7 linked regions of the Homo sapiens genome follow. The protein of the gene in region 1 interacts with the protein of each later gene in a biochemical or structural test. Each region holds a gene or a part of one and is shown in the gene's direction. Other genes may lie near its edges.

What was found.
Region 2: the proteins of DVL3 (region 1) and GNG4 interact in a test that uses a peptide from one of them, tested with the Homo sapiens proteins (one large-scale study listed by IntAct).
Region 3: the proteins of DVL3 (region 1) and TRIM29 interact in a test that uses a peptide from one of them, tested with the Homo sapiens proteins (one large-scale study listed by IntAct).
Region 4: the proteins of DVL3 (region 1) and MYOZ3 interact in a test that uses a peptide from one of them, tested with the Homo sapiens proteins (one large-scale study listed by IntAct).
Region 5: the proteins of DVL3 (region 1) and SORCS3 interact in a test that uses a peptide from one of them, tested with the Homo sapiens proteins (one large-scale study listed by IntAct).
Region 6: the proteins of DVL3 (region 1) and HDAC7 interact in a test that uses a peptide from one of them, tested with the Homo sapiens proteins (one large-scale study listed by IntAct).
Region 7: the proteins of DVL3 (region 1) and ABCC6 interact in a test that uses a peptide from one of them, tested with the Homo sapiens proteins (one large-scale study listed by IntAct).

What each region holds. Positions count from the first base shown.
Region 1 is NC_000003.12:184,158,377-184,161,876, forward strand, and holds part of DVL3 (segment polarity protein dishevelled homolog DVL-3), read left to right. Parts: intron 1-3,500. UniProt on the Homo sapiens protein: Involved in the signal transduction pathway mediated by multiple Wnt genes.
Region 2 is NC_000001.11:235,639,785-235,643,284, reverse strand, and holds part of GNG4 (guanine nucleotide-binding protein G(I)/G(S)/G(O) subunit gamma-4), read left to right. Parts: intron 1-444; exon of another isoform or gene 445-1,020; intron 1,021-1,036; exon of another isoform or gene 1,037-3,242; intron 3,243-3,500. UniProt on the Homo sapiens protein: Guanine nucleotide-binding proteins (G proteins) are involved as a modulator or transducer in various transmembrane signaling systems.
Region 3 is NC_000011.10:120,135,314-120,139,252, reverse strand, and holds the start of TRIM29 (tripartite motif-containing protein 29), read left to right. Parts: upstream 1-1,139; 5' UTR 1,140-1,221; coding exon 1,222-2,025; intron 2,026-3,939.
Region 4 is NC_000005.10:150,664,251-150,667,750, forward strand, and holds part of MYOZ3 (myozenin-3), read left to right. Parts: intron 1-1,263; exon of another isoform or gene 1,264-1,781; intron 1,782-3,500. UniProt on the Homo sapiens protein: Myozenins may serve as intracellular binding proteins involved in linking Z line proteins such as alpha-actinin, gamma-filamin, TCAP/telethonin, LDB3/ZASP and localizing calcineurin signaling to the sarcomere.
Region 5 is NC_000010.11:104,647,790-104,651,289, forward strand, and holds part of SORCS3 (VPS10 domain-containing receptor SorCS3 precursor), read left to right. Parts: intron 1-3,500. UniProt on the Homo sapiens protein: Plays an important role in modulating synaptic transmission and plasticity in the hippocampus, probably by affecting the trafficking and localization ofAMPA-type glutamate receptors in the postsynaptic density.
Region 6 is NC_000012.12:47,785,563-47,788,903, reverse strand, and holds part of HDAC7 (histone deacetylase 7), read left to right. Parts: intron 1-739; coding exon 740-859; intron 860-1,094; coding exon 1,095-1,192; intron 1,193-2,200; coding exon 2,201-2,319; intron 2,320-3,018; coding exon 3,019-3,152; intron 3,153-3,341. UniProt on the Homo sapiens protein: Responsible for the deacetylation of lysine residues on the N-terminal part of the core histones (H2A, H2B, H3 and H4).
Region 7 is NC_000016.10:16,150,495-16,153,994, reverse strand, and holds part of ABCC6 (ATP-binding cassette sub-family C member 6), read left to right. Parts: intron 1-3,222; coding exon 3,223-3,417; intron 3,418-3,500.

The sequences.
Region 1 (3,500 bases):
ACTTGCCTAAGGTCACACAGCTAATAAGAGGCAGAGCAGAGCTTGCTTTGACATCAGGAATCTGGATCCAAAAATCTAAATCCTTAATCGCACAATTTTAGGTGTCATTATTATCACCATTTTACTGATGAATCCTCTCCGAGGGAGGTGGTAAGCCTTGGAAAACTGTAGAGGTGACAAGGCCACCATTTCTCCGAGCCCCACAAGAGGAAGGTCAGGCGGAGGTCAGTGACCCTAGAGGAAGGAAAGTGGGTCAGAGGAGGAAGGCTGCTGTCTCTCCAGTTTCTCCACTCCTGGCTCAGCCTTTGAGGTGCTAGTTGTGAGGCTCCTCAAGTCCCATCTGGTCTACAAAAGTATTTGTCAAGCTCAGGGTAGGCCCAGCCATCTTTTTAAATTTTTTTTCTTTTTTTTTTTTTTTTGAGGAGTTTTGCTCTCGTCACCCAGGCTGGAGTGCAGTGGCGCAATCTCGGCTCACTGCAACCTTCGCCTCCCGGGTTCAGGTGATTCTCCTGCCTCAGCCTCCCAAGTAGCTGGGATTACAGGCATGAGCCACCATGCCTGGCTAATTTTAGTATTTTTGGTAGAGATGGGGTTTCACCACGTTGGCCAGGCTGGTCTGGAACTCCTGACCTCAAGCAATCCACCCACCTCGGCCTCCCCAAGTGCTGGGATTACAGGTGATGAGCCACCGCGCCTGGCCTGCCATCTTAAGTTATTTGAGAAATGGAGGAAGGATAAACATTTTCAGCATTGAGGGCATGGTGGATGGTTCATAGAAGTAAGGTGCCTACTGCTAGTCTGGCCTTGAGCTGTGAGAGAGGGCAGCATGGCGATCAGGTCATTAGCTGTGTGGCTTCCTGCTCCACTGTCCTCCCTCTGGGCCTTCCACCTGCAGACTCTTCTTCCCCTGTCTCCTCCAGGTTCAAATTCTCCTGTCTTCTGGGTTGAGCTTTTCTGTGAGAACTGTCATGGCACTCTCTTATTTTATCCTTTTTTTTTTTTTTTGAGATGGAGCCTGGCTTTGTCACCCAGGCTGGGGTACAGTGGTGCGACCTTGGCTCACTGCAACCTCTGCCTCCCGGGTTCAAACGATTCTCCTGCTTCAGCCTCACAAATAGCTGGGACTACTGGTGTGTGCCACCACACCTGGCTAATTTTTGTATTTTAAATAGAGATGGGGTTTTGCTACGTTAGCCAAGCTAGTCACGAACTCTTGACCTCAAGTGATCCGCCCACCTTGGCCTCCCAAAGTGCTGGGATTACAGGTGTGAGCCACCGTGCCTGGTATATTTTATCTTTATATCCTGACACCTGTGTAACACTCAGCAGATGTCTATCCATTGAACACATGTGCTGCTCCTACGGCTCCAACCACTTCCTGGATTGCAGTATATTTCCATGAACTATCCACTGGACCATAGTCTCTCTGAGAACAAGGCAGGCTCTGGGTCTGATGTTTCATGAGAAAACCTACAATAGCAAGCTCAGGACCTGAAACCCACTGGGCCCTCAGCCAAAGCATTTTATTTTATTTTATTTTTATTTTTTTATTTTTTATTTTTATTTTATTGTATGTTTTTTGAGAGGGAGTCTCGCTGTGTCGCCCAGGCTGGAGTGCAGTGGCACGATCTTGGTTCACTGCAAGCTCCGCCTCCTGGGTTCACGCCATTCTCCTCCCTCAGCCTCCCGAGTAGCTGGGACTACAGGTGCCCGCCACCACGCCCTGCTAATTTTTTTTTTTTTTTTTTGGTATTTTTAGTAGAGACGGGGTTTCACCGTATTAGCCAGGATGGTCTTGATCTCCTGACTCATGATCCGCTCACCTTGGCCTCCCAAAGTGCTGGGATTACAGGCCTGAGCCACCGTGCCCTGCCAGTCAAAGCATTTTAATTGGATGAACAATGAATGATGAACAGGTTTATTTGCTTTGCCCTTAATAATGTATACGTAGTTAGAAATAGTGTATGGATCCTGCTAAAAATGGACAATATAATTAGCTTTTACTGTATGCCTGGATCATGCCAGGCATTTAAGGATCCCTTTTACCAGGATGAGACAAAGGCTTGGAGAAATTAAGAAACTTCTCTAAGATAAGAGGGCCAGTAAGTGGTAGAATTGGAATTTGAGTCATTATTTGTTTGACTCCATTTGGGGTATGAGTGTGTGTGTGTGTGTGTAAGTGCTATGTAAACCCCAGCCATTCAGCTCCATGGTGGGAGAGTAAGACCTGTCTGAGGTTCCCCAAAGCTGCTGAAGATCAGCTGATTGTTTTGAGTCAGCAGAGCCTTGGTGGCCTGTCGATGACCCCCAGAAAGAGAGGAAACGTGTAGTGTGGAGCAGTGTGGTGGGGCCTGCCAGGGGAGCAGGGAGGTAGGGACTCAGCAGCAATTTCCCCCAGACAGGCAGACCCTATCCAAAGCAGGCTGTGCCATGTGGCCCACATATTCCCTTTTCCTTTGAGCCCTGTGGGGCTGCCAACCTGGAGTACCCTGTGGCCAGAGTGGCTGGTGGGTCTGAGCTACCTCTGTGTCCCTTCTTTCTAGCCTGTCCTTTCTACACTTTCTGCCATGGTGGGCCGCAGTAGGATGATTTGGGCTGCTTTCCGAGGGTCGCTGTGGCTCTGGGAATGATAGAGGAGCCAGAGCTGGATGGGAGTGGGGAGGGCAGGCTTGGCCTGTGAACTTGGCTGTGAGTCCAAAAATGTGAGCATCACAAGGGAGCCAAGCACATTCCCAGCTCTGGGCAGAAGCTGCTCTAAGAACAAGGGGGGCCAGGCACGGCGGCTCACGCCTGTAATCCCAGCATTTGGGGAGGCCGAGGTGGGCGGGTCACCTGAGGTCAGGAGTTCAAGACCACCCTGGCCAACACGGTGAAACCCTATCTCTACTAAAAATATAAAAATTAGCCAGGCGTGGTGGCAGGCACCTGTAATCCCAGCTACTCGGCAGGCTGAGGCAGGAGAATCACTTGAACCCGGGAGGCGCAGGTTGCAGTGGGCTGAGATTGCACCACTGGACTCCAGCCTGGGTGACAGAGCGAGACTCCGTCTCAAAAAAAAAAAACCAAAGAACAAGTGGGGACTGAACTTCCCAACCTCCTCCTTGCTGTCTTCCCTCTCTGCTCAGAGCTCCTGGCATGCGTCATCTTACCCTTGGTCATGTCTTCCCATCTCTGTACTCCTGGCATATTTGACAGTCTGAGGGTCCTCAAACTTTTCCACTCCCCTTCCTAGCCCCAAACTGTAGTTACTGCCTGACTTCTTGCCTCACCACATTCCCCCGGCCAAACTACATGCTCCGTGACCACATTCCACACCCTTCATGCCTCACATCATTGTCCTCCAGCACCCACTCTCCACATAGACCCACATTACCTCTGTTATTATATAGGAAAGAATGTGAAATACAGTGGAAAGAGTATGGATTTTGGAGTCAAGCCTGGGGTGAAATTCCAGCTCTGACATCTACCAGTCCTGTGACCTTGGACAAGTTAACTGAATA
Region 2 (3,500 bases), on another chromosome or scaffold:
AGGGCGGCCAGCAGGGGCCCAGGGTCATGAAAGAGGAGTGGAGAGAGCAGAAAGGTTGCTCAGAGCCGGGGTGTGAAGGTGAGACTGACCGTGAAGAATGGGGAATCCAGGGCCATTGTCAGGCAGAAGCAGGAAGCAGCAGGCCCCACCTTGGCCGTCTGGCTGTGACTGCCATGTGGGGAAGGTCGGAGGCGTGGGGCAGGAGAGGGAGGACAGGGAGACTGGATAACGCCCAAGGGTGCCCCGGCCCCAGCGTCAGTCGGGGTGGCCGTCTGATTGGAAACAGAGGGCCAGGGAGAGGCTGGTGTCTGGGATCCCAGGGTTTCCAGACTGAGCATGGATGGACGAGGGGTAATGTGACCTGGTTTTGTGAATGAAGCTGGGCAAGTAGAGAGAGGGTGTATGACTTGCCAAGTCAGGAGGTGACATCGAGGGGGCATGTACGTGCAGAGCTGAGCAGAGGTCTGGCTGGACCCAGGTGAAGCCACAGGGGCGAGATTGCCTGGGGTGATCCGAGGTGTGATGACAGCAGGGAGGCCCGCGCCTCCAAGAACACACGGCAAGTTTAGGACAAAACAAATATCCTTCTGTAGGAGGCACACCCTTTCTTACACAGACTTTCATGCATAGGATTCCCTTAAAAGAGACCCTCCCAACCCTGCCCTCTCCCTGGCCCCCTGCCCCTCCTGCCCGCCTCTGCAAAACCACAGCCAACCCGCCACCACCTCGCCTTCCTGGATGACTCATTCTTTCTGCGTTGAAGCAGTTGCATCCTGCCTCTTGTTTATGATTTCTTTGTCCCTCTGATGCTTACGGATTGGCTCGGACGCTGTTAGCACCCGTCTCTTGCTGCAGGCCCACGTCGGGGAATCACAGTGTATCATCCTTCCGTGCGTGGGTCTCTATTCGAGAGGGAGTTTCTGTTCTATGTTTTGCTCAGTTGCCCCCGGTCACTCTTTTCCCACCCCCAAGCACCAGTGGCCTCGAGGCGGAGGGCTGGCCTTGGCCCTGCTTCACAGTAACCGCGGCAGCTTACCCGCGACACCTGCACGGGAGCGGGGCCAAGGCTCACCCCGCCCCTGCCGGGCCTCGCTCGGGTTCTTCCACCCTGCGTTCGCCTCGGACCGCTGTGGTTAGCTGTGAAATGCCCCTGCGGTCTGGTTTTCTCTCCTTTTCCGCACGGTTCTTAGTGTGTTATGTTGCTTTTCCGCACTGTACGTTGGAAGCTCTAGGGCTACGAAAACGCAGGCAGTTGCGGGGGAAGCGAAAAATCCCCGCCCTCATGGAAGTTCTGTTACGGTGGAGGAATCAGACCAATGATAAGAAGTCAGAAAATCAAAAGTAGTTTAAACAAGTACATGAATAAATAAGCATTTAAGATATAGTAAGTGCATGAGAGAAAAATAAAACAAGGCTGGGAGGTAGGGAATTCCGGGGAAGGGGGTGGCTCACATTTTAAATAGGCTGCTTGTGGGAGGACCTGCCATGTTGATCCGAGGTTAAGGTGACCTCCCAAATGAGCTCATCTGATGCACGTGGAGCCAACAGGTGAAAGTGTTGATGGAGTCACAGATTATTTATTTATTTATATTTTTAGGTGGAGTCTTGCTCTGTCACCCAAGTTGGAGTGCAGTGGCGCGATCTCGGCTCACTGCAACCTGCACCTCCCAGGTTCAAGCCATTCTCCTGCCTCAGCCTCCCTAGCGGCTGGGATTACAGGCGCCCGCCACCACGCCAGCTAATTTTTTGTATTTTTAGTAGAGACAGGGTTTCACCATGTTGGCCAGGCTGGTCTAGAACTCCTGACCTCAGGTGATCCGCCTGCCTCGGCCTCCCAAAGTGCTGGGATTACGGGCGTGAGCCACTGTGCCCCGCCGATTATTTATTTAGTTTTAGAGGCAGGGTCTTGCTCTGTTGCCCAGGCTGGTGTGCAGTGATGTGATGGTATTTCATTGCAATCTTGAGCTCCCCAGTTCAAGTGAGCCTTCCACTTCAGTCTCCTAAGTAGCTGGGGCTACAGTTGCCCACCACCATGCCCGGCTAAATTCTTTTAAAACTTTTTGTAGAGATGGGTTCTCACTATGTTGCCCAGGCTGGTCTGGAACTCCTGGCCTCAAGTGATCCTCCCACTTCGGCCTCCCAAAGTGCATAATTACAGGCATCAGCCACTGCACTTGGCCTACAGATTAATTTATGCCCAAGTGCCTTCCTGACAGAATAAGGTGGCTTTCCCCTCCTCTCACCCCTAGCATATAAGAAAGCTACATTAACCAAAAGGAGTATTTGGTAGTGTAACTCAAGGTAGAGGAAGAGACAGAGATTCTTTTTGCAAAATGACACGCAAGAAGCAGCCCCTTCTCACTCCAAAGTGGGCCTCTTCACAGCCTGGCTGTTTTGTGGGTGCTCCACCCATCCAGGGACTGGGGCTGCTGGGCCCAGTGACCTCTGACCTGCCAGGCGCCAAGCGGCAACAAAAGGGAGGGAGAGCTCTGGCCCACCGGGCAATTTGACTCTTCCTGGAGCCCTGCAGGGGGTGGTGGCCCCGAGAGGCTGGATCAGAGACCCTCAGGTCCGAAGGTCTGGTGGGCTAAATGAAGTAGAGAGGCCGCCCTCAACTCCACCCTGCCGGGATTCAGGCGGGCTCAAGGACGCAGCTTGGCAAGGACTGTCTTATGTATTCGCCTTGATGCGTGGTCTGGCAGGTTCACTGTAGTCTGTTGAATGATGTGTGTATCCTTTCTTCTGTTTTACACACCTGTTTTGAGAACCATTTACTTGTAGCACAGTCTGTGTATAAAGCCTAAGGTAGATGCAGCAGTGGTTCTCAAACCTGGCTGCATACATTTTGGGCAGTTTTTAAAATATCCCTTCTTGGGCCTCATCCCCTGGACATTCTGACATAGTGGGTCTGGGCTAGGGTCCGGGAATTAGTCTTTGAGTTTTGCAGCCACCAGATTTGAGATGCATTGAACCAAATGATTTCTGTGGGTCCTTATTCCTGATATCTGATTCCCCCCAACCTGCCTAAGCATCCCCAGGCTCTTGTGTCCTATGCCAGCCTCTCCCGCTCCTCGTGGGGCTGTGAGGGTTTGACCACCGTAAGCATGATGTGCCTGCAACACCAGGTCTCCTCCCCAGGCTGAATGCATGGATCTGTCCTCTTCTGCCTGGGGTGAGAGACAGCCTTCTCTGTGGGGAAACCAGCTACCACCCTGAAGAGCTGCCTCTGTCAGAGCACAAGATCCCCACCTAGAGACCCCCTCACTGCTCCCCTCCCACAGCAGCAACGGCAGCTCTGAGGTTCTGGACACCCCAAAGGACACAGACCTACCTTCACCCATGAGCCGTCCAGGAGACATTTGACAGCTGCTGTGTGCCATGTCCTAGGGGTAGGAATGCAAAATAAGTCAGAGGCCATCCCTGCTCCTGAGGCATTTACAATCCAGTGAGGGAGACAGAGGATTATAACACAACACAGAGCGGGGCACGGTGGCTCACGC
Region 3 (3,939 bases), on another chromosome or scaffold:
TTTTCTCACTTTTCTTCCTGAGGTCTGTATTTATATGATAGTCATATTTGAACAGGTGACTTCTGAGATTATCTGAATCTCACACTTTGCTGACCTCTTTTTGGAGGGCATTGCCTGTGGCCTGGCCCAGAGAGGATGGGCAGGTGTTTTCTGAGTCACACAGCAGACCAAGTGTGGAGACAGGTGAGAGTCAAGTGTTTGGGCCCTGAGGACCCAACCACCTGGGCTGGCATTGCTTGGATTCCCCTCATTGTTGTGCCTTGGTCATTTGAATCCACGCAGGTAGCAATAATCTAAGGTCTATATGTATCTTGTTGGGGCCATTGGGATAGGACAGACTCTCAGAAGCCATCTTCTGATGAGATATTCAGGTGACTCCATGACCACCCAGCTGAAGAAGGGACTTTGGCTTCTCAAAGGCTTAGGGTTCAAATCCCAGCTCGGCCACTTGACTTAGGCCAGTGAGTTATCTTCTTAAAGCCTGTTTTCTCATCTGTTAAAAAGGGGTAATTGAACAGGTTTTAGGGAAGCCTGAATGAGCTCGTAATATATGCAATACCTAGGAAAGTGCCTGGAGGTTGGCAAGTAGGGTTCAATACTCAGTAGCCAAATCAAATGGAACCCATCCTTCCCCCTTAAGGTGAAAAGCAGCGATACAGTCCCAGGGTGGACAATCTTTCCTCTGAAACTCAGGCCTGCAAATTACAAGGCTATTTGGCTTGTGTGACCCAGTTAACAGCCCTGTGTCTGGTAGGCCTCTGCAGACACCTCACCTTCTGCCCCAGGGGCCTCTGGGCTCAGTGAAGCCTGCCCACTTGTGAAGACGGAGACTCCCCGCTCCCCGGATGAGAAGCAAGTGCGTCAGAGGGAAGCAGCCCAACTGGTTGCTGAGTTGTGGAAAATAAGCTGGGGGAGAAAAAACACTTCTTTTAAAAATCAGGTTAGGGATGAATGTGCAGGGCGTGGTTCCTGTGCAATTATCTGCTCTGCTGGCTGCGGGGCTCCCTGCTTCTCCCGGGCCGCTGTGTCAGGCTTGTGCCTGTTGCTCCTCCCCTCCACTCCTCCCCCTCCTCCTCCTCCGCCTCCTCCCCCTCCTCCTCCTCACAGGTGTGTCTCTAGTCCTCGTGGTTGCCTGCCCCACTCCCTGCCGAGACGCCTGCCAGAAAGGTCACCTATCCTGAACCCCAGCAAGCCTGAAACAGCTCAGCCAAGCACCCTGCGATGGAAGCTGCAGATGCCTCCAGGAGCAACGGGTCGAGCCCAGAAGCCAGGGATGCCCGGAGCCCGTCGGGCCCCAGTGGCAGCCTGGAGAATGGCACCAAGGCTGACGGCAAGGATGCCAAGACCACCAACGGGCACGGCGGGGAGGCAGCTGAGGGCAAGAGCCTGGGCAGCGCCCTGAAGCCAGGGGAAGGTAGGAGCGCCCTGTTCGCGGGCAATGAGTGGCGGCGACCCATCATCCAGTTTGTCGAGTCCGGGGACGACAAGAACTCCAACTACTTCAGCATGGACTCTATGGAAGGCAAGAGGTCGCCGTACGCAGGGCTCCAGCTGGGGGCTGCCAAGAAGCCACCCGTTACCTTTGCCGAAAAGGGCGAGCTGCGCAAGTCCATTTTCTCGGAGTCCCGGAAGCCCACGGTGTCCATCATGGAGCCCGGGGAGACCCGGCGGAACAGCTACCCCCGGGCCGACACGGGCCTTTTTTCACGGTCCAAGTCCGGCTCCGAGGAGGTGCTGTGCGACTCCTGCATCGGCAACAAGCAGAAGGCGGTCAAGTCCTGCCTGGTGTGCCAGGCCTCCTTCTGCGAGCTGCATCTCAAGCCCCACCTGGAGGGCGCCGCCTTCCGAGACCACCAGCTGCTCGAGCCCATCCGGGACTTTGAGGCCCGCAAGTGTCCCGTGCATGGCAAGACGATGGAGCTCTTCTGCCAGACCGACCAGACCTGCATCTGCTACCTTTGCATGTTCCAGGAGCACAAGAATCATAGCACCGTGACAGTGGAGGAGGCCAAGGCCGAGAAGGAGGTAAGTGCTGGGGCCCCTCCTGCCCCTCCAGGCCTCTCCTCTCTCACCCCACCCCTCCGAACTTCATCTTCTCCACTCGGGCTTCCTCGGGTTTGGGGCTTAAGTTTCTACTGTCCTTGGCTCTTTTAGAAAACATTTATTTCCCCTCATGCCCCCTGTCCCCCCTAATCCCAGCTGGGGATCAGAGGTTGCTCCCCAATCCCCTAAGGTCTCAGGAGACAGGGACATTTTCTAGATGAGCGGATGGAGACTCAGAAAAGGTTGAGGGCCTGACCAAAGTCATAGGATAAATTCGAGTCAGGTTAGAGAGTATGACCCAACTGCATAGACCTCACTTCTGGGCTCTGTGCCTGGCTGAGGTGTTTCTTTCTTCTTCTTCTCCTTCTCCCTCTTCCTCTTCTTCCTCCTCTTCTTCTTCTTTTATTTTTTTTTTTTTTTGCTTTGAAGAAGAGATAATTCCTCCAACCTGAGTCGGACTGGCCCCTGGGGAATGGGTTGTGGGTGAGGAAAGATACTAGAAGGAGAGAATTTTGGGGCCCACTGAAAGGTCCTTCTTGCTGTCTTTGTAGTTTTTATTGTCGTACAGTGGCTTCTTGTTCTAGCTGATCCCCAGCTGGTCTCTTGACTTCCTCCACAGCCTCCTTTATCCTTCTCCCAGCTGGGCCCTGTGTTTTGCGTGTGTGGTTGTGTGTGGACACACATATTCCTGCAGGCGGACACCGTTGGGGAAGTTTGGAGTTTGTGTGTGGATGGCGTGTACGTGTACAGCTAGTCCCTGACTTAGGATGGTTTGATTTACAATGATGTGAAAGTGCTATGCTTTCAGTACAGTATTCCATAAAATCCAACACTTTATTACAAAATAGGCTTTGTAGTAGAAGATTTTGCCAAACTGTCGGCTAATGTAAGTGCTCTGAACAAGTTTAAGGTAAGCTAGGTTAAGCTATGATGCTTGGTAGGCTAGGTGTATTAAAAGCATTTTTGACCTATCACATTTTCAACTTACAATGGGTTTATTGGTAAATAACCCCATCACAAGTTGAGGAGCATCTGTATATGTGTTTATTTTATGTGCACGTGGGTGTTTTTGTGCCTTTGTGGATGTTTGCATGTATTCATATATGTGATACGTAAGTGTGTTTGCATGAGTTCTATGTGACTGTGCCTGTACTTCTATGGGGAGGAGCAGAGGCAAGTGCAGGCTTGTGGATGTAGCATACCTGGGGAAGGTGATTTGGGCAAAGGGCCCAGCTGTGGCCACTGCCCTTTGCCCCACAGATGTGGGGCTCACTCTTCCCTAAGGTACACAGCTTCCTGCTGTGGGTGGCCTTCCTGGGGCAAACCTTCCTGGCCTCCAAAGCAGTGAACTCCACTTTCCTGAAGAGCTTCTGCACACCTCAGATCTGGACAGCAGAGGATTCCTTCCTGCCCAGCCTTCCTGACCAGGAGGAGCTGGTTGATTACTCTTTCCCTTCATCTCTCACCCACACCCCTGGACAGAAAGGGCTGAGGTAGAGAGGGGAACAGACTCACAGATTCCTTCCAGAAGCCTCGTTTGGCCCAGGAAGAAGATGTTTCCAGCTTCCCCCATCTTCTGACCCCAGCGTGGCCTCAGGTTTCATACTGAGAGATATAGATGGGACGGGGCCATGAAACTCATTCTAGGGAGTTTACTTGGGAGGTTAGACAGAACAAGAGGCAATCATCCTCATCACAGCAGCTGAGAAATTGCAGAGCCTCAGACAAGGTTTTAGGAAATGTGACCGAGTTCCAGTCCCAGTTTTTGCCTCTAACTAACTGTAAGGCTGTGAATAAGTCCTTTCCACGCTCAGTCTCATTCTCCCAAGGGGTGAGGCTAGATTGTTGGTTTTCAAATTACCCCACAGAGCCCTGGAATTCTTAGACATGTCTTCG
Region 4 (3,500 bases), on another chromosome or scaffold:
GTCCAGTTTCTTCCCCTACCCTGATTTTGTAGCTGAAATATGCACATTCTATGGGTACTGACGCTCTAACTAGAAGGGTCAGGCAATGCATTCTCTTTTCTCTTGGGGAGTTCATTACAGACCCCCAAATATGGAGACACATCATTGATACAAGACTTGAAATATATAACTTGTTGATTATTGCTAAGGTACTGACTAAAGACAATTTTGAAACAAAAGTAGGAAGAAAAAATAAATCTCATAATCTCACTACCTAAAGACGGCCACTGTAAAGTAAAAGTTATAAAAATGTTTACCATCATTGCATGCTTACTATGTGGCAGATACTTTGCTAAGAGAAAAGTATCCTTTATGCTTTGTGTCATTTCATCCCCACCACAACTCCCTAAGTTAGATATTCTCCTCATTTTGGAAATGAGAATATTGAGGCTCAGAGGAGCAGGTGATCACATCTGGTAGGTGGTAGAGCTGCAATTTGACTCCAGGTCTCTTTGTCTTCAGAGCTGTTTCTTTATTACATGGTTACAATGATAATACATCACTTTTTAAAAAAAAAATTCACTTGCCATTGACTTGGCATACATTAAAAAAATTTGTTTAATTCAGACAAAACAGACATGAACGGCTTTGAAAGTTCATCATAATGGAACCATCTGGAGATAACCACTGTTAACATATTTATGTAAATTCTTGTTCTGTTCATATATGAATGTCTTTATATAAACATACATACACATGGGCTAAATACTATATGCTATGTTCTTTGGCTTTTTTTTTTTTTCATTTAGCAGCATTCCATCCTAGTATGATTTATCTCACGCCTTCCTTCCCCGTGCTTACCAGCTTTCTGCTGTTTGGACACGTCATGTGTGTTTAACCATCCCCTGATGAGGGTTGTCTGGGGTGAGATCCTTCGGGGCAGAACAGAGGAGCCTTGTGCAAGTGACTTATTGAGAACGTGCTCTCGGAAGGGAAGGAGGAATGCAGCCTAGGGTGGGGTACTGCTGAGCGAGGATGTGGGCTCAGCGGCTGTCCAGTTCAGTGTGACCCCGCGGGGAGCTCTCGAGCATGAATTGCTCCACAGAATTCATCCCACCTGAGGCAAGGGCGCTGTGGAGCATCCATTCCACTGGCAGTTCTCTGTAGAAGGTGGTGGTGTGAACTCTTAGCCACTAATAAGGGGCATCTGGCAGCATCCACCACGAGACTGAGTCCCAGTTTTCACAATTTTAAACCCCACTGCAATAAACATTCTTATACATGTATCTTTGGACATATTTATTCAACTTTTTCCCCGAGAATAAATTCCTAGAAATAGAAATACTCAGTCAAATAGATTTTATCTTTTTTTATTTTTTAATAGAGACAGGGTCTTGCTATATTGCCCAGGCTGGTCTTGAACTCCTGGGCCCAAGCAATCCACCCACTTTGCCCTCTGCAAGTGCTGGGATTATAGTTGTGAGCCACTGTGCCTGCCATTTTTTTTTTTTAAATATTGAGCTCAGCTGGGGGAGGTGGCTCACGCCTGTAATCCCAGCACTTTGGGAGACTGAGGCAAGCGGATGACCTGAGGTTGGGAGCTCGAGACCAGCCTGACCAACATGGAGAAACCCCATCTCTACTATAAATACAAAATTAGCCAGGCGTGATGGTGCATGCCTGCAATTCCAGCTACTCGGGAGGCTGAGGCAGGAGAATCGCTTGAACCCGGGAGGCAGAGGTTGCAGTGAGCCGAGATCATGCCATTGCACTCCAGCCTGGGCAACAAGAGTGAAACTCGTCTAAAAAAAAAAAAAAAAAAAGAACAATATTGAGCTCAGCTCATCTGTATAGTATTTCAGAATATGATACTGAGGGTGCTTTATTATGTATTTAGGTATAACTATTCTTTTATATTTTTAAGTAGGCAGTACACTTTCTTGTTAAAAACAGTTACAACAAAACAGTGTAAACAATTTCCAACCCTCCTCCTTTATATGTCCCATGGTCACTGCTGTGGTGACATGTCTCCTTGGCATGTCTCCTTGCAGATTTTTCAATGCATGCAAAAACACATACTTATTTTTTAATATAGAAATGGGGGCCGGGCGCGGTGGCTCACACCTGTAATCCCAACACTTTGGGAGGCTGAGGCGGGCAGATCACTTGTGGTCAGGAGTTTGGGACCAGCCTGGCCAACATGGTGAAACCCCATCTCTGCTAAAAATACAAAAATTAGCCGTGCGTGGTGGCTCATGCCCATAGTCCCAGTTACTTGCGAGACTGAGGCAGGAGAATCACTAGAACCCAGGAGGCAGAGGTTGCAGTGAGCCGAGATTGCACCACTGCACTCTAGCCTGGGCAACAGAGCAAGACTCTGTCTCAAAAAAAAAAAAAAAAAATATATATATATATATATACACACACATATATATAAAATATAGTTATATAATATATAATATAAATGGGATCTTAGAATACCTATTCTTCTGAATCTTACTTTCCCCTCCAATTAATTTATACTGGATTTCTTTTTTTCTTTTTTTTTTGAGACAGCATCTCACTCTTTTGCCCAGACTGGAGCACAGTGACATGATCTCAGCTCATTGCAAACTTCACCTCCACCTTCAAGTGATTCTTGTGCCTCAGCCTCCCAAGTAGCTGAATTACAGGCACACGCCACCATGCCTGGCTAATTTTTGTATTCTTAGTAGAGAAGGGGTTTTGCCATGTTGGCCAGGTTGGTCTTGAACTCCTGACCTCAAGTGATCCACCCTCCTCTGCCTCCCAAAGTGCTGGGATTATGGGTGTGAGCCACTGCGCCCGGCCTATAAGTGGATTTCTTTCTGTTCTTAGCACATAAAAAGTGTCCTTTATGTGTCCGTTGAAAGAATAAAAAAAAATCAGTGTCCTTTTTAGACAGCTATTTAGGATTCCATTGACTGGCATGAATCACAGCACCCAAGTGACCCCCAGTACTGCCTGGTAGCCATGTCCATCTCCCTAGTTCATTCACTATCTCATGCTACTCTCTTAATGACTTTGGCAACCCCTCTTCTCAAACCTCCAATACCTCCTTGCACAACCTCATTCTCAGCTAAAGACCTTGCTTCTTATTCCACTGAGAAAAATAGAGTAACCAGAAGAGAACATCTGCAAGCATCCTCCGCCACATCTGTCTACTTGCTTGCATCTGCACCCGTGTTTGTGGTTTTCCTTTCTGATATGGTGGATGGACTCTCCTCATACCTGCCTGGTGCCAATTCCTCTGGCTGGGCTCTGGAAACCCAGCTCTCCTGTCACTCCTGCTCAAGGACATTCCTTCAGCAATTCTCCCCTCTCTCTATTGCATTGTCAAATGTTCCCGTCAGTTAACGCACATGCTGTTATTTCTCCATTTTTACAAACAAACAAACAAACCCCTCTTGATCCCATAGCTGTCTGTAGCCAGGATCCTTTAAAGCCCAACTCTTCCAAGCAGTTGTCTATATTGTTCTTACCAATCCTCTCTTTCTCTCTTT
Region 5 (3,500 bases), on another chromosome or scaffold:
GTTAACATAAGATTCAGAGGGGTCTCTACACTACTTAGTAAGAGGATAGAAATAAGGACTAGTTAACAATCCTGGCTTCTCATGGACTTCAGAGATCAGATGGACACCCCCATAAGACATTCATCCATTTTCTGAGTGTTTCCTGTGTATGTGGCATTGTCCTAGAAACTGTGGGGTTGGTAGAAGTGTGATAGAGAGGAGACAAAGAAGGATAAGACAGCATTTGCCTCATGGTCCTGCCGACATGCTTTGGATGTGAGACTGCTCTTCTGTAAAGTTAAATAACACATGACAACAAGACAGATGCCATGGGGTGATATGTGGTTAATTGTCAAGTGATCGTTTCAGGCTATGAGCTCGCAGAAGAGAGGATCCCTGTGGGACATACTACAGGAATTTGAGACTTGCAGAATGTCAAGACTGGAAGTGCACTTGGGAATTGTCTTCATCAAATCACTCATGATAGAGATGAGGATATGAGGCTCAGACAGAAACATGGCAGCCTGCCTTGGACCCTGCTTATTTTTTTTTCTCTTGGAAGAGCCATCCCCTCTTCACACCCATTTTTCTCCTTTCTTCTCAGGTTAACAGAGCATTTTCCTTCTAAGAGGATTTGTGTGTTTTCACTCTGATGAGGTGCCCATTTTATAGGTAGGATAGATTGAGGCCCCAGGATGGGTATCGTATGAGGCTAGTTAGAGAGATTTAGGAATAGATTCTTTCCTTCTGTTCTGGGGCCATACTCTATAGTCAACCTGCCCACCCACCGCGGTGGCTGCAGACAATGAATAACAAGCTAGTTAATGTTGGACAAGCTGTATCTTACTAACCATTGTTAATGGGGGCCTCTTGTGAGTCACTTTGTAATTTGAGTTAGTGAGTGAATCAAGCCTGGTTACATCACAACCAGGAATATTTTGCTCATTTATTTTGATCAGTGTAGTTTGGATTTAATTATTTATAGAAATACTGTTGTTTATAGTACACTAATAAATGTTCTATAGTAAATTTGGAAAAAATAATGGAGTCTAAGAACCTCAGGATTGCACAGATTGTTTTCTGCTATTGAGTGCATGCAGGGAATCAGAGGAAGCCATCCCTGCTTGGTTGAGATGAGAGGGACCTGCAGCAGAGTGGGGCCAGCAGGGTTCTTGGTCAGTAAAACTGTGCCCTTGGCTAAGTAGGGGACTGTTACTTGGCATGCACTGGAAAGAGAAAAAACCTTCTTTAGGGGAAAAACTGGAAATAAAGCTATGTAGGATAATCAAGGATTATATTGGGTTGTGGGATTATTTAGTATGGGTATATGGTACAACTTGTGTGAATTCATATTTGTGGAGAGATTTCATCATGAATGCAATCCTCTTCTGGATTTGTTGAGAACAGATAGACTGGGAACCTGAAACAGGCCACATACTAAATAAGATCAATGGATTTTGCAGCCAGGTGCCTGGGTTCAAGTCCTGCCTCTGTTTCTTAATAGCTGTGTGACATTGGGCAAGTTGTTACCCTCTCTGCTGTTTCTTCATCTGAAAAAAGGGAGTGATGATATAGTATCTCTACCTTGGGCTGTTGTAAGAATTAAGTGAGACTGTACAGGGCAGAGTGCTTAAAAGAAGTGCCTGACCCATTTGTAGCAAGCACTCAAGATACTTTAGTTTAGTTGTTATTTTTATATCTGGAAGGGGCCTTCCCTTAATTTTCAGATGGAAATGTTGAAGCAGAGGAAGGAGGCACTTGCTCAAGGTTTCCCAGTGAGCTGATGGCAAGGCCTTGGCTAGAACCCAGTTCTCATCAAGATGCTCATTTCAACCACCTCCCATAGTTCATGTCCCCAGTCAATGAGTCTTTGCCATGTCTATCTTTTATGTCGTGCTAAAGTAGACATTGAAAAGGATCTAGAAGTGAATGACTGGGGACCTGTATTCTTGAAATTCATACTCAGAATTTGTAGTAGAAACAGAATAATATTCATTAGATGATTACACTAATAAGCTATGAATAAATTTAACATTATTTCGGGGCTTTTATTGCATGGAGAGTTAAGGGATCCAGAAAGATGAAGAGTAGCTTCTCTCAGAATTGGCATCCATGATACAACTCACAGCTAATCAAGGGAGACTTCTTGAGGGAAGTGAGTAAAGTGTGTAGCTACTAGAACATTGGAGAACACTGGGTTGCTGGGGCTGGTTGACAAGCAGATCCCATTGTGCCAAAGACTCATGTATGCCAAAGTCATGGGCTAGACCTCAATGTTACATTTTTCCTTTCCTCTTCTGTATTTGTGCCTGTTGTGAAATGGGCATATCACATGGATTGGAGCTATCTGTAGAATATCTGCAGCCTGTTCCCCAGAATTATCACACTGGTACAATCCACTACTTTGTGGTGATCTATACCCATAGAGTTGTAGGCTTGAGTTCCCTTTTTGCCTTCACCCTGTGTACCAAGAGTGGAACCTGAGAGCCCTACATAGACACTAGAGGGAGTGTTGCCCTGGGAAAGAAGTGAAAATAAATAGGATGAAATAACAAGACAATGCTGTACCAGGAATTGTTCCGAAGGAGGGAAGATGAAAAGTAGACTGTAAGTGAATTGTGTAGGGGTTGTATGATGATCCATAGATGAATAATCATTTGGCAGCAGGACAGTTTTCAATCCTGGGGGGGGCTGATCATTCAGCCTCTTCCTACAGAAAAAAGGGGAATAGATACAAACACGTTCATTCAGCAGTTAGATACTCAGACCATTAATGACCAAACTAACACTCTACAAATAGATTCAGCTGGAAGTGATGCTTAGGCTAGGTTCTCCCATTGCTTCTGTATTTCCTTCCTTTTTGCTTCCTTGCTCTCTTGTATCTGGTGGTTAAGTCAATAGGTGCTTATTGAGTTGAACAGAATAAATACTTGCTTAAATACTTAAAAGTGCCTGGGTAAAGAACAAGTGTCTTGGGGATGGAGTAGTGTCTGGCCTGCTGTTGCTGGCCTGGGATCTGCACTCTGGGACATTGCGGCTGTCTCTCACAGGCTCTCAGGTCCCACGTGCCTGACATCCTCCCAGAAGCCTTTTTGACATCTATGGTGAGGTAGGCAGTTTCTCATTCAGATGGTTAGAATCAGGTTACAGATTACACTGCTGCATAAGAAATAAACTTTTTCTTTTAAAAATCTGTTCTCAGTGGGAGATGAAGAACAATGACTGAGTTGAACATTTTCAAGACTAGAAAAATAGCTCAAGCTGCCATATCTGAATGTGATTACACATAGTGGGGGAACTTGTCTACAATAAGAGTTCTGAGACAATGAAGCTGGTGACACAGATAAACTTGTTTTCCAGAGTGGTGGTGGAAGAGGAGGGTATCCTTAGTGGTGAAAGAGTTGCTTATCTCACTGTGTTGCTTTCAGTGTTATTCATGCTTGAAAGCAAACTTTTGTTTGAAAGATTTCTCAAAACTCTAAAGCGTCTTTTCTGTCATGAGAAGGTCCCTAAGCCACAGC
Region 6 (3,341 bases), on another chromosome or scaffold:
ACATCCAGACACTGATGGTTTTACACATGATGGATTTAATCCTGACTATAACCCACTTTACAGATGAAAGTGAGCACAGAGAGATTAAGTAACTCACACACAGTCATTCGTAAGTCATGAGATGGATTTGAACCCAGGCGGGTTAGCTCTAGAGTGCTTGCGTTTAACTGCTAAGCTATGTCCCTTCTGCACTGACAGCTGTGTAAGAGACATTTCTAAGCAGAAGTTGAGAGCGGTGGAGGACCTTTGCACACTTGAGTTCCCGCATGGTCCTGTGAGTCGAGTGTAGGGCCCAGCTCTCCCTACGAGGGATGGGGCTGGGCCTCGTGTACCTGCCCCTCTGTAACCGAGCTTGGTTTCTGATCTCCTCATAACTTCATGACTTTATGCAAGACAGAGTGGTTCCTGATATGTGTAACCCTGAACCCTTCCCTCTCCTTGCCACTAACCCCATGTCCACACAGTTACTCTCTCAGGTGGGCTGGCCTGAGATTGGGACACCTCCTCTCCTTCAGGATCTCATATTACAGCCAGCCCTGTCCAGCACAGAGAGGCCGAGGTTCAGAGCCGGGCAGTGGATTACGTGGGGCCACTCGACCGTGTGGCTTTAGGAACCCCAGGTTCCTGATCCCAGTCTAGGGTCCTGACCTCAGAATGGCCACTGACCTTGAAACCCTTCTAACCTGTCCTGGCCCCCATCTCTCTGCCTTCCCTAATCGCTGCCCGTCTCCCTACACAGGACGTGCACCATGGCAACGGCACCCAGCAAACCTTCTACCAAGACCCCAGTGTGCTCTACATCTCCCTGCATCGCCATGACGACGGCAACTTCTTCCCGGGGAGTGGGGCTGTGGATGAGGTAACCGCATGTCAGGGCCACATCTTCCAGCCTCATTGACCTCCTCCTGACACTTACTCTGCCTCTGTCATGACGAGCTGTGTGATCCTGGGCAGACTGCTGAGCCTCTCTGATCCTAAACTTCCCCACCTGGAAATGGGGAGGCTGGATGAGCTGGGCTGGCAGCTCTAACAAACTGGTGTTCCCCTTCTGGGACTCTGCTGTCCTCATGTCTCTCTTGCCTCCTGTTTTCCAGGTAGGGGCTGGCAGCGGTGAGGGCTTCAATGTCAATGTGGCCTGGGCTGGAGGTCTGGACCCCCCCATGGGGGATCCTGAGTACCTGGCTGCTTTCAGGTACGTGCTCTGGGGGCCCAGAGGGGCAAGTCCACCCTCTCCTGTCCCTTCTCCCAAGAGCACCAGGGGGGAGGTGATCAGTTGGATTGTCAGCCTGTCCCCACCAGTTCCTAGACATTGTAGGTGAACGCCAGTGAGAATAGGACAAACAGAGAGAAGAATGCAAAAGTCAAAGGGTGCTTTGCAAAGGCATACATTACCGAGAGCCAATGTCAAACTGATTGCTGGCAGGTGGGTGGTGGAGTGAGCAGAGCTGGCACATTTAGTCAGAGAAGGCTGCCACTCTATTTGGGAAAAGAGAATTCTGGAAATGGATCTTCAAACACTTTTCTGGAGTTATCTCCATGACAGCTAATTCTACGAGAGCCCTGGGCTGGAGTTCCTGGAGTCTTCTCAGAGCCCAGGGCTATGAAGAACACCCAAGCAGGCCCCAGAGTTGGATCAGGGGTAGAGGAAGGCAGCTGGGGGGGGGCCTGGAAGAGGGAGAGGATGAGAGAATGTAGCCAGGTGGCGCAGAACCTCAGAGGACCTAGTTGTCCCCTACTCAGCTCTCAAGTAGTGAGTAGCTGGGTGTGGTCAACTCAGTCCAAAGGACTGAGCACTTGTAGTCCCTGAAGCTTTGTGACCAGAGTCCATCTCCGCAAGGCTGTGAGATTACCCTTTCCCTGTGGCTCCGGCCACTGCACCCCACAGATGCTTGCATGCACACACACACATGCACACACACATGGTCACACACACTCCTCTTTCATTCCCTCTGGTGCTCCATCCTTGGCTCCTTTCTGCCTCTTGCTAGTTAAGTCCCCTAGGGGGCTGAGTCCTTAGGCTGTGTGTGCCAGGGACATGGGTGGCCAGCCAAGGTCAAGGAGGTCAGAGAAATCTGCCAGTTGTGCTGGGGCACTGGGAGCCTTGGAGTCCTAAGAACAGGGTGCCCCACCGCAAAGTTGGCAGGACCGCCCCTGGCAACCCTGCACAGTACGATGATCGCCACTTCTTGTGACCTCACAGGATAGTCGTGATGCCCATCGCCCGAGAGTTCTCTCCAGACCTAGTCCTGGTGTCTGCTGGATTTGATGCTGCTGAGGGTCACCCGGCCCCACTGGGTGGCTACCATGTTTCTGCCAAATGTAAGGGAGCCTCAGCTGAGGGGGACGTTAGGGACAGAGAGCCAGGCGGTGCGGGGAGTTGGGAGGCACTCCCAAGTCAGAAAGGGAAGGTGGCAGTGGCCAGCCCAGGGCTTTCAGCCTGAGGACTGGAGTATGGCAGCTGGTCCTGAAATTCCCCGGGATCTCCTAGCCGAGCACAGCCCAAGCCCTTTCTCAGGACCAGGCCGGTTCACCACGGAGGGCTTGACCAGGTCATACCCATGGGGACTTAAGTCCAGTAGGCAGGAAGCTCAGCCGTGGGACTCCCCACCACAGCTGGGTTGATTCCAGGTGGGCTGGCAGCTCCTCCAGAGGAAGGGGAGAGAGAAGCAGCACTCTCAGAATAGAGGGTGGCCACAGGGCCCAGAGTACAGAAAGAAGAGAGGGTGTAGCTCAGTGAAAAAGACACAGGCTAGAGTCAATGACCCAAGTTCAGGTCCTACCTTGCTGCCACTTACTAGCTGTGGGGCCTTTCCCAAGGCCCTTAACCTCCCTGAGCCTTGAGTGAAGCATACTAGTAGGTTTTGTACGACATTCAATGTGAAAGCACTTTGGAAATAGTGATTGATACATGTGAGTCATTCTTTATTAGGGAGGAAGCAAGCAGGGAAGCCACAGGGGTAGAGAACAGGGTCACCTCTCCACTCCCGCCCCTCCCATTTCTCCCCTCCCAACCTCTAGGTTTTGGATACATGACGCAGCAACTGATGAACCTGGCAGGAGGCGCAGTGGTGCTGGCCTTGGAGGGTGGCCATGACCTCACAGCCATCTGTGACGCCTCTGAGGCCTGTGTGGCTGCTCTTCTGGGTAACAGGGTGAGCCGTCTCCCTCCCCCATCCATGCTTCTGTCAGGCAGGTAAGCCCGGCTCTCAGGACTACCCAAGGAGCAGGCAGATGGGATGGGACAGGGTGGGAGTGGCCAAGCCTGAAACAAGGTAGGCGAAGCGGAAGCCTCTGTTCCAAGTTAGGTCCAGGCAGCATCTCCTGGCCTAGGTAGAGTGTGC
Region 7 (3,500 bases), on another chromosome or scaffold:
CTGGGCTTCGTCTCAACAACAAAAAGCTGTGTGGAAAGATACACATAAAATTTACTATCTCAACCTTTTTTTTTTTTTTTCTTTTTCTTTGGAGACAGGGTCTGGCTCTGTCATTCAGGCTAGAGTGCAGTGGTGAGGTCAAGGCTCGCTGCAACCTCCACCTCCCAGGCTCAAGCATTCCTCCCACCTCAGCCTCCCGAGTAGCTGGGGTTACAGGTGTGAGCCACCAGGGCCAGGTAATCTTTTTATTTTTTGTAGAGACAGGGTTTCACCATGTTGCCCAGGCTACAGTCGAACTTGCGTAGGCCTCCCAAAGTGCTGGGATTACAGGTGTGAGCAGCCACGCCGGGCCCATCTCACCCATTTTTCAGTGTATAGTTTCTGTAGTGTTAGGTACATTCACACTGTTACACAACAGAACTACAACTCTGTACCCATGAAACCCTAACTCTCCTTGTCCCCTCCCCCAGCGCCCAGCCACCAGCATTCTCCTGTCTCTCTGAGTGTGACTACTCTAGACACTGCATAGACGCAGAATCATAGGATCTGTCCTTTTGTGACTGGCTTATTTCACACAGCATGATGTCTTCAAGGGTCATCCACATCGTAGCATGTGTCAGATTCTCTACCTTTTTAAGGCCGAATAATTTTCCACTACATGGATAGACCACATTTTGCTTATCCGTTTATCTGCCAGTAGATACCCAGGCTGTTTCCACCTCTTGGCCGTTTTGAATAATGCCACTATGAACATAGGTGTATAGGTATATGCCTTTAGAAAAACCAAAGTGGCTGGGCGCGGTGGCTCATGCCTGTAATCCTAGCACTATGGGAGGCCGAGGCGGGTGGATCACCTGAGGTCAGGAGTTCAAGACCAGCCTGACCAATATGGTGAAGCCCCGTCTCTACTAAAAATACAAAAATTAGCTGGGTGTGGCGGCAGGCGCCTGTAATCCCAGTTACGTGGGAGGCTAAGACACTGAGACAGGAGAATCGCTTGAACCCGGGAGGCAGAGGTTTCAGTGAGCCAAGATTGTGCCACTGCACTCCAGCCTGGGTGACAGAGTAAGACTCCGTCTCAAAAAAAACAAAAAAAAACCTAAGGTGTTCTGGATTTATAAACCCCTCTGACCCTGAGGGTGTCCGAAGGGCTTGTGGTAGGCAATAATTTCCAGCACTAGAGAGGCAGCGTTGCTTGGTGGGTAAGAGTATACACAGGTGACAGACTGCCTGGGCTCAAATCCAGGCCCCCCACCCCACACCCCCACCCCCGCCCCGCCCTGCCACTTACTAGCTGTAGGATCTTAGGCAACTTATCTTGTGTGCCTCAGTTTCCTCATCTGTAAGGTGGGAATAATAGCACCTACCTACCTTGCAAGGATTGAATTATATGCACAAAGTTGTTGAAACAGTGGCAGGCATAGAGCAAAGAGTAAATACTCATTTTAGTCCTGAGTCACACTCCTGATAACATCATTTCACAGAGTTGGAATTGGAGGCCTGGGGCTTGCCTGACGTCACACAGCTTAAAAGTAGTGAGGTTGGGACAAGACCCAGGCACTCTAACGCCTGCATGACCATAGTAGGTTCTGATCATGTAAAAGGATGCTGTTTCATGGAAGGGCTTACTGTGCAAGACAGCCATGCTGGGGCCCCAGGGGTCAGTTCCCACCTGGGTCAGGGGCTCACTGGGCTCACAACCTGGAATCTCAACTCCTCCACCCTCCACGAAGGGTGCTACTCCATGCCAAGGGCTTATTCTGTGACAAGCCTACACACTTTTTTTTTTTTTTTTTTTTTTTGAGACAGAGTCTTGCTCTGTCGCCCAGGCTGGAGTGCAGTGGCGCGATCTTGGCTCACTTGCAAGCTCTGCCTCCCGGGTTCACACCATTCTTCTGCCTCAGCCTCCTGAGTACCTGGGACTACAAGCGCCCGCCACCACGCCCGGCTAATTTTTTGTATTTTTAGTACATACAGGGTTTCACCGTGTTAGCCAGGATGGTCTCGATCTCCTGATCTCGTGATCCGCCCACCTCAGCCTCCCAAAGTGCTGGGATTACAGGTGTGAGCCGCCGTGCCCCGCCACCCACACACTTTTATGTGCCATGTCGTCACGATTCAGCGAGGACGGATCCATTAGGAGCACAGACTCTGGGGTCAGAGGACTTGGGTTCAAATTATGGACCCACCACTAGCCTTGAGACCTTGGTCAAGCCACTGAGCTTCTCTGTATCTGTGTCCTCTTCTCTCAAAAGAAGAGAACAATAATATCTACCTTGGTGGACATTATGAGGATTGAGTGAATATATACAAGCACTTAGAATGTGTTTGGCACAAGGTGGAAACTAGAAATAGAACTGGACATAGCCATAAACAGGCCAGGCACGGTGGATCACGCCTGGAATCCCACCCAGGTGTTGTACACATCTGTATTTAAGGCCCACGTGACACCAGCCTTGAATGTCTTAGGAAGACTGTAGATTTGATTCTTGAAGCAGCAGTCAGTCATTGTAGGTTTGTTTGCAACGGCATGACTGAAGTGAAAGCTGTGCTTTCGCTGTTGGGGGAAATATAAATTAGTACAGTCACTATGGAAAATAGTATGATGATTTCTCAAAAAACAAACTAGAAATAGAACTACCGGGGCGCAGTGGCTCACGCCTGTAATCCCAGCACTTTGGGAGGCTGAGGTAGGTGGATCACCTGAGAGTTTCAAACAAGTCGGACCAACATGGTGAAACCCCATCTCTACTTTAAAAATACAAAAGCCAGGCATGGTGGCGCATGACTGTAATTCCAGCTACTTGGGAGGCTGAGGCAGGAAAACTGCTTGAACCGGGAGGCAGAAGTTGCAGCGAGCTGAGATTGTGCCATTGCACGCCAGCCTGGGTGGCAGAGCAAGACTCCGTCTCAAAAAAAAAAAGAAAAACGAAGAAGAAAAAAAGAGCCATAAACAGAAAAAAGAAAATAGCCATTTCACAGGTGGGGAAACTGAGGCACAAAGGGTTTGAATGACCTGCCTACAGTCAGCCTGCTCAAAGATGGCAGGAACAGGCTTCCTATCAGTTCTGCAGACCACAGACCCCAGACCCCATGTGTGGGGATGCCTGAACACAGGCACCTCACTCCTGCACTGCTTCAGGGACCTGTTTCTGGGCACACCCACACATCACCATGTGCCGACAAACGCACGTCCCAGCTAATTGTCCCAATCGTTCCCAGCGTGGGCCAGAAACAGCTCCTGTGTCTGGCACGTGCCCTTCTCCGGAAGACCCAGATCCTCATCCTGGACGAGGCTACTGCTGCCGTGGACCCTGGCACGGAGCTGCAGATGCAGGCCATGCTCGGGAGCTGGTTTGCACAGTGCACTGTGCTGCTCATTGCCCACCGCCTGCGCTCCGTGATGGACTGTGCCCGGTAAGGCTCCCGCCCCGGCCTGACCTCACAGCAGCCCTGCAGTGGTGGGGGAAGGAGGCGGAGGCAGTCCTGGGCCACTGGGC